2 separate regions of the Homo sapiens genome follow, and region 2 is linked to region 1. A link means that fine-mapping ties the variant in region 1 to the expression of a gene that starts in the linked region. Tissue or cell type: gastroesophageal junction. Region 1 holds a variant in brackets; the other region holds the start of a gene. All regions are shown on one strand. Distances are from middle to middle.

What was found. PIP is the estimated chance that this variant, and not a neighbour inherited with it, causes the effect.
Region 2: EIF2D starts here. The variant in region 1 is fine-mapped to the expression of EIF2D in gastroesophageal junction (GTEx, PIP 0.99).

The regions. Positions count from the first base shown.
Region 1 is chr1:206,737,941-206,745,821 of GRCh38, forward strand. No RefSeq gene overlaps it. Among named protein-coding and RNA genes, the nearest start is that of IL19, 29 kb to the right of the region's middle. RefSeq lists silencers at 1,531-1,580, 1,611-1,720 and enhancers at 3,487-3,536, 3,627-3,736, 7,178-7,277. The variant T/A (reference allele first, on the strand shown) is at 3,364.
Region 2 is chr1:206,608,293-206,614,732 of GRCh38, forward strand. EIF2D (eukaryotic translation initiation factor 2D) reads right to left here and starts at 4,173. Exons shown (of 15, transcript NM_006893.3): 1 at 3,995-4,173; 2 at 2,892-3,082; 3 at 1,084-1,167; 4 at 1-34. The coding sequence starts at 4,050. RefSeq lists enhancers at 1,256-1,355, 1,396-1,455, 3,866-3,935 and a silencer at 4,226-4,435.

The DNA of each region.
Region 1 (7,881 bases):
CATCTATGCCTTGTTGGGGAGGATTTCAGTCCTCCCCCACCCAGGCATGTGAAGATTAAATGAGGCTGTGCCAAGACTTGGAAAGGTGGGGGAAGTGCAACTCGTGTGGAAAGATAGGACTGCCCCCTGGGCTCTGGGCCACCATTCAGACAGGTCAGTGCCTTGGCCTTTTCAGCCTAGGCTGCTCTTTAAAAAGAAGACCTTCAGCCACTATCCAAGAGTAAAAATGTCACATTTTCAACATTCAGCTCATCTTGAGCACCTCCTCTGTGTCATGCCCAGTGCTTAGGACTTCGGAGACACACAGATGAGTCCAGAAGTGGGTCTAGCCTTTGTGGAGCTCAGCATAGAGAAGTGGCGGGCATCGCTGTAACAGAAGAACTGATGCTCTCCAGAACAGGAGCAGAGGTGGTTGGAGTGCATAAGGTGGAGCTATTCTGTTAGAGACCCAGGAGAGCTTCCTAGCAGCCCTTCAAGCTGGCACCTGACTGACAGTTTTGATGGCAGAAAATGGAATAGCATGATGGAGATTTCCCCATTGCATTTCTGCTCTCACTTCTCTCTGCAAGAGCTAGATCCTTCCTTCTCCAACAGGTTCACCCCTCCTGTCTTGTGGTCTGAACTGCTGTCTGTCTGCTCATCTCGTTAGCTTGACCTTTGACCCCTCATGGGTTCTGCTCATGGAAATCTGATTTACTCCTCTCTGTGGGGTGCCCTTGGTGTTTTCTGTCCATTTTCCCTTTCCAGCCCCTCCAACTTGGATTTGCCTCATAAATGATGTTTGCTCCCTGAAAAACAAAATTTGGGGATGTGGGCTGATGGGGCTTTTGCCACGTTTCACTCAATTCATTAATTTTTTAAAAAGTGTTACAGTGGTACACCTTAAACTTAGATCTTTTGTAGTTAGGCACTTTCTGAATCATCATGGAAAATGATGACATTACATGAAATTGAGAGCCCTCCTGGAAGAGCAGGATGAGCAATTGTTAGGGGCTTCCTTGCCCCTCTTCCCTCTGCCACTAAAAGGCCTTTCTCATCCCTTTGTCCTCATGGTTCTTACTCCACTCAGTTTAAAAGTGGAGCCCTTGGGAGCCTCCCTGGCACTCACACACAAAAATGTCAATATACTTGGCGTCCACCCTTTCCATTTTTAACACACCACCATCTGGAACCCAGAATTACCTTGGAATTTACTTGTCTCCTCTAGAGGGAGTCATAATTGCTTGGAAGGTAAGTTACTGCCCAGAGCCTCTGGCCAGGAAGTCTTTTGGCTGTCAAGCCTGCAGGATTTCAGGTGGGGCTGCCAAGGTGGTGGAACCTGTGTTTGATAAGTCATTTTTAGGGACCAGGGCTGCCATGCAAATGCATTTGTTTGCATAACTTTCTTGCTCTCAGGGACAGTAAAGTTTCCTACTGCCATCCCACACCCCTGCCAGGATTTGCAAGTGAAATACCAGGACTGACTTTCCACTTTCCCCCTTCATGAGTCCTCCCTTCCTAAGTCCTCCCCCACCCCTTGGTTTTGGTTTTGTCTCTGAGGTCCTGTGTGACCAAATACTAGTCTCAACCTCTCTGATCCTAGGGTAGTAGTGTTTCCAGGACCCTGATATGCAAAGTATCTGTACAAGTTATGCAAATGAGCATCCTGTCTGGGTGGCTCTGGTCCTAGCCCCGGGCAGTTACTAGCTCTGACTACTGCTGTCCGAGTGTGTGAAACGTGATCTTGCTCCTTCCTCTGTCCAGGCAGCTGTGGGTCTCTTGTTCCTCAAACAGCTACTGCCTCTTGGGGTAATAAGGCCTCAAGTTTCAGAATGAGCTGAGTTCTCCTAGCCCTTACCTTCTGATCTGGAGACATGTGGTTCTGAATTCACCAGTCAAAGGTTTACTTTTGAAAGAAACCACGATCTCATCTAAGTCTAAGACAGAGACCTTGGTTAGCTGGAGTCTGTGGTGCAGAGAGACCTGGTATTTGTAGTAAGACCTAGAGGGGCCTTTGGTTTTCTGGCACTCAGCTGTCTCCTTTTCTGGTCACAAACCTATTCTAAGGAAATGGTCCTCATAGTGAGACTCTAGCCCTACCCACCCACAGGAGGGTCGAGGGCAGGAGGGGAAGGATGACAGCCAGGCATTCTTTGAGCCAGTGTGCAAGGAAGAGAAAGGGTAGACGAGAAATTCAGTCTGATCGGCTTATTTCAGGCTCTGAAAATGACAGCTGACTCAGGGTAGGTGCTTAGTATCTGTTGGATGGATGAAAGCATCTAAAGGAAAATTAACACAAGTAATTTTAGTAACTCAAACAAGACATTATATGTACATATATAGACATACAGAGTGAGGCGTGAACCTTTCTCTTTATAACGTCTCCACCTCAGTGATGCCAATTCCCTCTCCAGAAAAAACTTCATTGAACAGCTTTATTTTTTTTGAAATTTTTATCCAAAAAGTTTCTGAAAATTTATCTAGATACAAATATACTTATAAGCACAACTGAGAAGTTTCTTTGGCAGTTATAACAAGTACAAATGGAATCATTAGGCATATTGTTCTGCAACCTGCTTTTAAAAAATTGTGATAAAATACACTTAACTGAAAATTTACCATCTTAAACATTTTTAACTGTAAACTTCACTAGTATGTTCACATTGTTGTGCAACTGACAGACTTTTTCATACCCATGAAACAACATACAGCTTGCTTTTTTCACTTAGCATATCTTGTGAATTTCCATGATCAAACTCATAGAACTATCATTCTTTTTCTAAATAGTTGCAGAGTATTTTATAGTATGATGTACCACAATTTATCTGCTGTGGATGGATATTTCTCACCTCCTTTCTTTTTTATTTGTCTTTTAACCTCATTTGCACTGAAGGACTACCCTCCCCCCCTTTTTCTACTATTTATATAGATCTCACAAATATCTTGTACAGTATCTTCGAGTGTGTGTGTAAGGATTTCTGTAGTATAGATCCCTAGTAGTGGAATGGCAAGATCTAAGGGTATACACATTTTAGTTTTTGATAGGGACTGCCAAAAAGACAGTATCGATTTATGAATGAATGCACTTTGCATATTGCTTTCCAAGTGAGAGCTTTACGAAAGGGTTTGCTGTCAGCAGCAAATCTGGGGGTAGAGTCAGTCAGCCGAGAGTAAAAGGGCATTTATAGCACTTCCCAAAACTGATAGATGTAGACCCTTGGCCACATTGTGGGCGAGTGGAAAAGTCAGCTGTAGAGGGGTTTAGGGGATTCCTTCAACATCTCCCCATATCAGTGGCCCTGCTCACTCAATTATGGTTATTTGCATACATTTTGGGCATGTAGGCAGAATGGCTCAAAGACAAAAATCTGAGGTTCAGCCTTG[T/A]TTGGCCTCCTGGTGTTTGATCTTGACCGGGCTACCTGCTTCTCTGACTGGCATGCAAATGCCTGTGGGGGATGACAAGTGTGCACATAACATAAGTGACATAAGGCTGACTCTGGTGGGTGCTGTAAGAGAGGCCCAGAGTGCTGTGGGAAGTTACAGAGGAGGCACGCCTCTGGTTAGGAATAGCAGGGAGGAGGAGGCGGCTTTGACTCCGGGTTGTAGGTGTTGTGGGGCACACAGGACACATGCAGGACCCACTATACAGGAGCTCACTAGACAGGAGCTCAGCCACATTGCCTCCCAATGTGACACTGATTGTGTGCCCAGCCCTCTGCTGGGTACCGAATCTGAGGCATCAGTCTTGGGGATGGCTTGGGATGTGGTGGTCAGTAGCTCAGTTGCATATGGCACAAAGATAAATCTTTGGAGTTACTCTAAGCTGGGTCCCAACTATGAGCAGATGACTTGTCCTCTCTGAGCCTCAGCTTGTCAACCGGTAAAATGGGAATTATTATTGAGGCACCCATGAACATGTGCCCCAGAGACCTCCTATTATGGGGAGCTTATTTGTCCAAGGGCCCCAGCTATGGCACTCTGAAATTCATTGTCTCATTTGTGTGGAGGCCACACTTCCTTTCTCGTGCTCCCAGTCAATGACAGTACAACAGGGATGTGAAGACGCACCCGTTCCTGGGAGAACCAGGACTCGAAGGATGGCCAGCTTTGCCCCTGGCAACTTCATAGACACTTGTGCCTGGGGCCCTTGTGCACATCCTCCTCTCCCTCTTTCCTTAGTGGGGTCACACACCGGTGGTTCCCCAGCCTCGCTTCACACTCCCTATTTTCTCTCATAAAGAAATTTCCCCTAACTGAACCCTTGTATGTGTAATCCTGTTTTGGCATCTGCTTCTTGGAAAATCTAGACTACAATATTATCACCAACCTTAGAAGGTGGTGAGGACTAAATGAAAAATCAGGTAAAAAAATCATATGAAAGACTTAGCATAGTTATATAAACGATTATGGAAAAGCCTCAGCCTGGCACATAGTTAGCACTCATTATTATCATATATTCTCATGCATTATACAGTGGGTACTGTAGCCATCATTGTACCAGTGTGAGCAGGTTAATTTAACTTAGGAGACTGCATTTAGAAGTCAAGAAACCTGCTTTCCTGCCCCTTCCCTGCTCTATCTCCCGAGTTCTCTATCCCCTCACATGTGCCCTTTATATAAGAGTGGCAGTTGTTACTCTTAACTCCCTAGGCTGGCCCCGGACTCCTCTTTTTGGGATAAAGGTGATTAACGCCGTGTGGCTTTTGCTGAGAAGGGAGGCTGCTACAGGGGTCTGCTGCAGGGACGTTCAGACTCAGTGGATTTGTAGCTCTTTAGCCCCGCAGAGAGGAGCCCCTGCCCTGCTGAGCTGTAGGCTTGCTGGGAGGTAGCAGGAGTAGGTGGGTGGGTCACTGAGGGGTGCTGGCAGCCGGGTAGTGTTGGCGGTGGGGGCTGAGGGAGGATGATGGGAAGACAGTGAGCCTCCGAGTGAAACAGACCATGAGAGGCGAGGTGAGTCACAGGTTTCTCTCAAAACCCCCATGCCCATGGTCTCTAGAATGTGCCGAAAGTGGAGCCCGCCATCCCCAGCCTAGGCCCCAGTTCTAAGAATGCCTCCCCTTCTCTCCCTCCCACAGTCGCCCAAATTAATCAGGTCCTCGGCTTTGGGGGGTATCGTTCTCTTTTAAGAATGCAGCAGAGAAAACCGCTGGGTTGTATCCCAGCAAAGGAGGCCACAGAGATTAGGGCTGATTGGGAGGAAATGTGAGAAGAGCGGTGTCTAGTTTAGGTTTTAGAACCTGGCTCTTCCTGCTCACACCACCAAAGAAAATTTGGCTTGAGAGATTCAAAAGAGGTTGTGTGGTGTGTAGGCTGCAACCCTAGATTCCTACAGATCTGGATTCATGGTCTTGCTCTAGCACCCAGCAGCTCAGAGCCCTCAGTGTTTGTATGCGTCAATTCCCCAATTAGTAAAAACAGTGATTTAAGAGCATCTTTGTTATAGCGCTGTTGTGAGAATGAGATAGCGAATCAGTATTAACCTTTAGCCCAGTTCCTAAATTAAAGCCCTATGAAGAGCCTCTCAGCTCAGTTCAGAGACTGCCAGTTCCCCCTTGTGAGTCTTTCTTTTCTTTTGGATTTTTGATCTCCAACGACTCCATAAGGAAGTGAAATAATTATCCCCATTTTATAGATTTGTAAACTGAGGCTCAGCTTGATTAAGTACCTAGGAAACAATCCTTTGTAGTACAGGACCCTGAGGTTCAACAGTGGTTTATCGCCTCCTTGGGACACCACCCAAAGGCAAAAGGGAAGCAGCGAAAGCATTTGAAGCTCAGAGAGGCTCAAGGCCAAGCCACAGCTTAGGGACCTGCAAAGTTCGCGGAGCTGCAGAGCTGGACGGGTGGGGCAGAAGCCACTCTTTCCATCCTCCAGGTCCTTGCGGTGGAACATTCCTCAGTTACCAGCACAACTCATTTTGAGTTTTGTTCACATGTCACTTTTCTCTTTCTTTTCTTTCTTTCTTTCTTTCTTTCTTTCTTTCTTTCTTTCTTTCTTTCTTTCTTTCTTTCTTTCTTTCTTTCTCTTTCTTTCCTTCCTTCCTTCCTTCCTTCCTTCCTTCCTTCCTTCCTTCCTTCCTTCTTTCTTTCTTTCTTTCTTTCTTTCTTTCTTTCTTTCTTTCTTTCTTTCTCTTTCCTCCTTCCTTCCTTCCTTCCTTCCTTCCTTCCTTCCTTCCTTCCTTCCTTCCTTCCTTTCTTTCTTTCCTTTTCTTTCTTCTTTTTTTTTTTTTTTTTAGAGGGAGTCTCGCTCTGTCTCCCAGGCTGGAGTGCAGTGGTGCGACCTTGGCTCACTGCAATCTCCGCCTCCTGGGTTCAAGTGACTCTTATGCCTCAGCCTCCCATGTAGCTGGGATTACAGGCACCCGCCACCAGGCCCGGCTACTATTTGTATTTTTTAGTCGAGACGGAGTTTCACCATGTTGGCCAGGCTGATCTCGAACTCCTGACCTCAAGTTACCCACCCGCTTTAGCCTCCCAAAGTGCTGGAATTACAGATGTGAGCCACTGCCCCCTGGCCACGTGTCACTTTTTCAATGACACCTACCCTTATTGTCTGATTTAGAACTGCAATTTTTCCTCCCACCTTTGACTCCTCACTCTGGGCATTCTCTGTAACCCTTCATGGCTCTATTTTAAAAAATCGTTTTTATTGAATTACTGTGTACATACACACAGTTATCCTACTTAATTTTCCCCCATAGATCTGATCACCTTCTAAAAATCTGTATAACTTGTTTATAATGGCTAGCATGTAACCTCCACAAGGGCAGGGATTTGTGTCTGTTTTATCCATGGACACATCCCAGTGCCTGGCATATAGCAGCTCTCAGCTACTTATTGAAGGTTGGTGGGAAATTGCTGGCATCCAGTACTCTTTGCAGAGAATGAAGATGAACCTCCCTGACTTGACAGTTTCGTGGAGAACAACACAAGGCGCTGTATGAGTCAGTGCTAAGGGCTGTGGTAACGACAGCAGCACGTGCTGGGTGGGACCAGGAGCATGTCCCCAGAAGTCTGTGAGATCCAGGGAAGCCCTCCTAGAGGAGGTTAGTTGGCACTTCCATTTCTTTAGCTCCCCCATCAGCTGAGACAGCTCCTCCTGCCCTAATAGAGGGAAGGATTCACTCTGTCAAACCCAGATACCTCCTGCTCTTTCTGCCCATTTCCTCTTGTTCTGCCCTCAGTGGGTCCTGTGGCGGTAACCGCACTAACCATTCCAGCCCATCTCATTCCTTACCCCACAGTCCCAGCAGGCTAAGTATGGGCTGCTGCAGACAAATTGCCCACAGGCTTGTGTAGCTTGGAAGGGGCAAGCAGCAGACAGCTTGCCCTTGGAGTAGGGTTGAACCCATGGATGCACATCCTGGCACTTGTCATGAAGCCCAACACATAGATGATGCTCAGTAAATATAGGATGAGTGGATGGATAAAGCTGAGAGTTAAAAGATGCCTGGAGGCCAGGTGCAATGGCTCATTTCTGTAATCTCAGTGCTTTAGGAAGCAGAGCAGGAGGATTGCTTGAGACCAGGAGTTCAAGGCTGCAGTAAGCTATGATAACCACCACTGCACTCCAGCCTGGGTGGCAGTGCCCTAAAAAAAAAAGAAGAAAAGAAAAATAAGATGCTCTGAGAAGACATTTAAATGACTCAGTCTCTGTCTAGACACAACAGTGGCATCATTTAAACAAATTTCTGTTTTTTTTTTTTTTTTACTTTACTATGTGTTTGTATTTAGCATTTTATTTTATGCCACTTTCCCCAAATGGAAGCTTGCGTGATTGTATTCTGTGTGGCACAAAATCAAGGAAATAGGAAAATAACAATGAGAATGTAGGGAGAGGAGGATACATACCAAAAGCCCTCACTCAGTGGAGCCAAGTGGAGCTGAAACCCGGATAGTAAAA
Region 2 (6,440 bases), 130 kb before region 1:
GCAGGGGGCATCACCAGTCCAGGCAGCATCAAATCTGCAATGAACAAAAAAAATCACAACCTGCATTCAGCCTCCATCTCACTCTGCGTTTTACTTCATCATTTCCTCACTCGCTCAACAAAAAAATAGTTACTAGGTATCAACTATGTTTTTCATAATAAAAATGAAAAATGGCAACTTCCAACAAAAAAATAGTTATTAGTTATCAACTATGTTATTCATAATAAAAATGAAAAATGGCAACTTCAGTATCAGACCTTCTCCCCTTAGGGGGCTAAAGGTCAAACAGAGTTTGAGTGTCCTGGCCGGGCGCAGTGCCTTATGCCTGTGGCTTACGCTTTTTATGACCCCTTCACCCATCCAATAGCAGGACATTTATTTTTATTCAAATGGTGGTTTCTAAGCCAGAAGTGGGAACCTTGACTTCCACTCCAGACTCAGCTCCTAACATTCTTCTGGCATAAAAGAGCTACTCTTAGCCAGGTGCGGTGGCTCACGCCTGTAATCCCAGCACTCTGGGAGGCCAAGGCGGGCAGTTGACTTGAGGTCAGAAGTTCGAGACCAGCCTGGCCAACATGATGAAACCCTGTCTCTACTAAAAATACAAAAATTAGCCAGGCGTGGTGATGCACACCTGTAATCCCAGTTACTCGGGAGGCTGAGGCAGGAGAATCACTTGAACCTGGGAGGCAGAGGTTGTAGTGAGCCGAGATCATGCCACTGCACTCCAGCCTGAGCAACAGAGTGAGACTCCATCTCAAAAAAAAAAAAATAAAAAAAGTTTGAGTAGCCTATAACATGATCTGTCTTGTCCTAGTTTCCTAAATTCAGCTTATTGATTTACAGTATAGCACATGGTGGTTCATAAAATACTTTCACAACACTTATTTAAGCCTTACAACAGGGCCAGAGGGGCCCAGAGATCTTGTGTGGAACCAGCCAAGTGAGAAACATAAAACACATAGGGGAAAAAATTCCATTTTTCAACCACAAAAACACAGGAAATGGGTAAGTTTATTACATCAGTTGGCTTTTGCTAAGTAGGTTTCAGCCAATAGCCAGAATATAGGAGAATCCTCTTACCTGCTCCCCCTACCAGTTTCTCGAGCACCAGAGGCCATGTTGTAAAGGTTGGCAGAAGATCAGGATAGGACCACAGCGTGTACACTGTACAAAAAGAGATCCAGAAAACACTACTACCAAAAAGCCAATCTTCTAGAGAAATGGAAAAACCTAACACTATGGTCACTTTAATTAGAATACAGGAAAGAAACTCAACTCAAAGCTAAAGAGAAGGTTGTAAGGGGATGCCCAGAGAGGTTTCATTTTTGAGGAAGGAAAAAACCTAAGAAACTGAGTGTCACTTGAGATTTGGAGGCATCCGGATTGCAGCAGCAGAAAATGGTCACAGTGGACAAAAAAGTGAGGGCAGAGAACCAATGAAGCTTTTATTTACGGCTTCAGAAGCAAGTAGCCTAAGAACAGGAAGCCAGCTGTATAAAATTTGGAAACTTTCCCATGTTTATCATTTTTATCCCCTCTGTTTCCATAGTGATTAGCAGCAAAAACCCCTAGGTCAAAAAGCATTGTGGTTGTCTTCAGGTACAGCAAGGAAGTGAGATCAGGGGCAGGAGTGGCCTAAGGATATTGCATTGCACTATTGCAGACAACCCTGGAGGATGAAAAGCCCCAAGTTACAAAGTAGGTGTCAGCAGCTATGGAAAAGAGAAAAGGAGACTGAGTCCCTGAGATTTGTGACAGAGAAGGCAAAGAATCCTAGAGAGCCACTCATAGCCTAAAAAATCCCTGTGAGACCTATGGTTAAAGTACACCATGAAAACAGCTGGATATGTAGCTTATCAATCCAGCTTTATTCCTATCACAGTATATCTTTTCAGTATTTTAGGAAAATCCTGCTACAGATAGTTTTAAGAAACATTTTTTAGGCTGGGCACCCTGCTCATGCCTGTAATCCCAACACTTCGGGAGACTGAGGCAGGAAAATCACTTGAGCTCAAGAGTTCAAGACCAGCCCGAGCAACATAGTGAGACCTTGTCTCTACCAAAAATTTTAAACGTAGCCAGACATGGTGGCATATGCCTGTAGTCCCAGCTACACAGGAGGCTGAGGTGGGAGGATCCCTTAAGCACAGGAGGTTGAGGTTACAGTTAGCTACGATCACACCACTGCACTTCAGCCTGGGTGACAGAGTAAGACCTTGTCTCTAAAAAATATATATATTTTTGGCCAGGCGCGGTGGCTCACGTCTGTAATTCCAGCACTTTGGGAGGCCGAGGCGGGCGGATCATGAGGTCAGGAGATCAAGATCATCCTGGCTAACATGGTGAAATCCCGTCTCTACTAAAAAATGCAAAAAATTAGCAAGGTGTGGTGGCGGGTGCCTGTAGTTCCTGCTACTCGGGAGGCTGAGGCAAGAGAATGGTGTGAACCCAGGAGGCGGAGCTTGCAGTGAGCTGAGATTGCGCCACTGCACTCCAGCCTGGGCAACAGAGCAAGACTCTGTCTCATGAAGACATGCCCTGAAATTCCATCCTTTTCAAGACCTCTGCTCTATTCCTAGTCAACCCACTGTAAACTTCTCAGCCACTGTTCCTTCATCTCAGAACTTCCCTTTGCAACCACCCTTACTTACTATGTCAGCCCTTTTTTTAATCCCTCCTATAGTGGTTTTGCATAAGAGAAAACCTTTTGCATCCTAGAATTGAAAGACCCAATTCTAGGAACACCAGGTCCATAAAGATCCTTGGGGATGGTATTGGGAGATTTCGTGCTTGCTTATTTTATGGGAGACAATGGAAGAAACAGAGAGAAGCAGATGTTAGGCAAGAACTACCTAATGGTAATGGCCATCTTCGTCCTGTTGTCATACCTGTTGGATACAGATTTTTCTCCAGTTCAAAGAGGATGGGGTTACCACCACTCACGTACACAGTCACTGCATCCCCTTTGTGAGCATACAACTTCACAATGTTGAGCTCCTCCTTTCCAGGTACTAACTCAGAGACTTGATCAGTTCCAAGGGTGGGGAAAGCAGTTGTCACATCAGCTCGAAGCTTTCTCCTGTGGAAAGCACACCAGCACTGTGAATGCTGCCTGGACAGACTTTTAATAAATATCAAGAACGAACTCAAAAGTGCTCACTATAAAATCACAAGGGCCAAAGAAAGATTGCCTGGTTTATGATGTCCTAGTCTCACACACACTCTTCTGAAACATCCTAAACTCTTTTTCATCCATTGTCATCTATTTTCACTCATTCCTGGGGTATGCCTTCCCATTTTATGGGTGGGAAAACAGGCCCAGTGAACAATCCAAGTTAGCCTGACACAGGAAACAGCCCTGCCTTCCTGACTTCATGCCTAGCCCTTGGGCCCACTCCTTTCTCATACATGCTTCGCAAATATGCCAGTTTATGATTAAATAACTATGCCATGAGACCTATAGACAACTATAAAGCACTGGTTACAAAATTCCAAACACAATCTCCATTTGTGACCCTGTCTGAACAGATACAGTTCTTCTTACCACATGTGCCTTATTCCCTCCCACCTCAGTTTCCAGCTGTCTCTCCTGCCAGAATTAATCACTAGTCATTTTTTTCTCTTATACTTTTAATTCTTGGTATCCCATCCGATCTCTCCCAAGGGGCATTAAGCTCTTTGGAGGGCAAGAATTCTGTATTCCTTCACTTCTGCATTCTCCACAACACCTTAAATAGTCTGCAGTCAGTAAACTCTGACTTAACTACGTTTTCTTTTAAACTCACTAGACTATCCAAAAGAGAGCCAGGTCCCCCTCCATCCTCACCTCAAAATGTGTCTAACCCACCCTTGCCTCCTGGGGTCCCTTCCCTGGCATACCCCTCGGCCTCCACCCGAGGATGTCGGCCAAGAATAGCGAGGGCTATGGGCCAGCGGGGCCCAAGAGGTGTCTGGTTGTTCCGTGGCAGAGCAGGCCCCTTTCCTCCCTCACCTGTCCGACCCCTTGATGGCCGTGTTGGACTTGACCCGAAAGGCCTTGGCAAACATGTCTGCTGGGGTGGCCTGGGGAAGAGAGCACAGAAGCCAGGGAATGTCAAGAAAGCGAGGGCGCAGCAGCTGCCAGGCCCTCAGCCGTGGGGGCAGCCATGCTGGGGCCCGGCCGCGAAAAGGGCCCGGCTGGAAACCAGGGCCGCGCAGCTTCGTGGCCGTTGCCGCTGGGGAGGCCGCGGCCGCCCCCAGTGGCGGTACCTGGAACTAAAGCAGGGCAGGGAGGGGCAGGGCCCAGGGAACGCCCCTCCCCCCCACCTTCCCATCCCCTCGCGGGCCTGGCTCTGCGCCTGCGCGAGCGGCTCGGGTTCCCCGTCCGTAGCGACTCGGCCACGCCAATAGCTGTTCTGTTTATTTCCTTCCACCCCATCAACCTTAGGAACTGCTTTGAGTAGAAGCTCTCTGCAAGCTCCCATTCCATTCGGTTCGGTTCAATTCCGCAAAAATAATTGAACTGATAAACAGTTCAGGCTTCGGCCGGGCGCGGTGGCCCAAGCCTGTTATCCCAGACTTTGGGAGGCCGAGGCGGGCGGACCGCTTAAGCCCAGAAGTTCGAGACCAGCCTGGGCAACATGGCGAAACCCCATCTCCATAAAAAATACAAAATAAAAAAAAAAAAAAAAAAAAAAAAAAAGAAAGAAAGAAAGAAAGAAAAAGAATTGGGAGGCCGAGGTGGGCGGATCACCTGAGGTCGGGAGTTCGAGACCAGCCTGATCAACATGGAGAAACCCTGTCTGTACTAAAAATACAAAATTAGCCGGGCATGGTGGAGCATGCCTGTAATCCCAGCTACTCGGGAGGCTGAGGCAGGAGAATTGCTTGAACCCGGGAGGCAGAGGTTGTGGTGAGCCGAGATTGCACAATTGCACTCCAGCCTGGGCAACAAGAGTGAAAGTCCGTCTCAAAAAAAAAAAAAAAAGAAAAGAAAAAAGAAAAATTCAGCCGGGTGTGGTGGCGCATGCCTGGGGAGGCTAAGGCGGTAGGATCGCTTGAGCCCAGGAGGCAGAGGTTGCCGTGAGCCGAGATTGTGCCACTGCACCCCACCTTGGACAACAGAGTAAGACTCCGTATCAAAAAAATCAAACAAACAAACAAAAAAACCTCGAGGGCTTTTTGAATATTTTTCTTTATTTTATTTTATTTTGTTTACTTGGAGACAGGGTCTCGCTGTGTCACCCAGGCTGGAGTGCAGTGGCGCAATCTCAGCTCAATGCAGCCTCCACCTCCCGGGCTCAAGCGATCCATCCGCTTCAGCCTCCCGAGTAGCTGGGACTACAGGCGGGCACCACCACACCAGGCTAATTTTTGTATTTTTTGTAGAGACAGGATCTCACCTTGTTGCCCAGGCTGGTCTCAAACTCCTGAGGTCAAGAGATCTGTCCGCCTCGGCCTCCCAAAGTGGTGGGATTACAGGACAGGTGTGAACCACCAAGTCGGGCCTAAATGTTTTTCTTAAAGGCATTCTATGATTAAGGTCTATTCATTGTACTATAAGCTAGAAGCCTCAGCTAGAATTTTCTGTAAGATTTTTCTCATCCCGGATTTTTAGTTTACTTGGGTGGTAATAACAGTAATAGAGAATTCACTGTTGTCCCAGATTTGTCCCAAAGTCACACAGGCAGGGAAGAGAAATTAGGTTTTCCTCAAAGGGACAGCTGTGTTCCCTGGAGACAAGGATTTAAACACCCGGAATCCTGGCTCTTCGTAAATTAAGTCTTGCATATTAAAATTACATTAAGCAATTTAAGTAATAAAAGTAAATTATGTTTTGCATATTAAAACTTCCAAGTGTCCATTCACCAATAAAAAATCCCAATTGATTCAGTGACGCAGTTGCACAAAGGAGAATTCCACACTGGCTTTCTAAACATTAGGCCTTCTACAATGTTTGCCCACCACCTATAGTGGCCTAGGGACCAGCCCCAACTCCTCCTAAACCTGTGACCCACTAGGCCTTTATTCTGAAGTATCCCAGCCACCAGGCCAATGTCAAAGGAGCCCAGAGGAGGACAGTGCCTACAACAGACCCCTGTACCCACCCTTCACCTCCCACTTAGCCACTCTTCGGATGTGCAATACATTTGGGGTCTTTTGCAGCACAGCTGCTGAGGAAGCCTCTTTCTTAGGGAACAGAGGAAAGCTATTCAGAGAATACTAAACATTTTAAGCTAGGGGAACTTTTGTATACCAGATGTCCTTGGATAAGAAAACATCAATTGTAAACCTAAAAATTAATTAGTGGTTGACAAGTAGGAGCCAAGACCCCAGAGGATTCTGCACCATGGCATCCAGCCTCCTCTTTGGTAGAGCAAGAGCCCCCTTCCCCAGTGGGCACAATCCCACCTTCTCTGCTTGCATCACAGACCTGCCTGCTCCCTGCTGGCTGACCC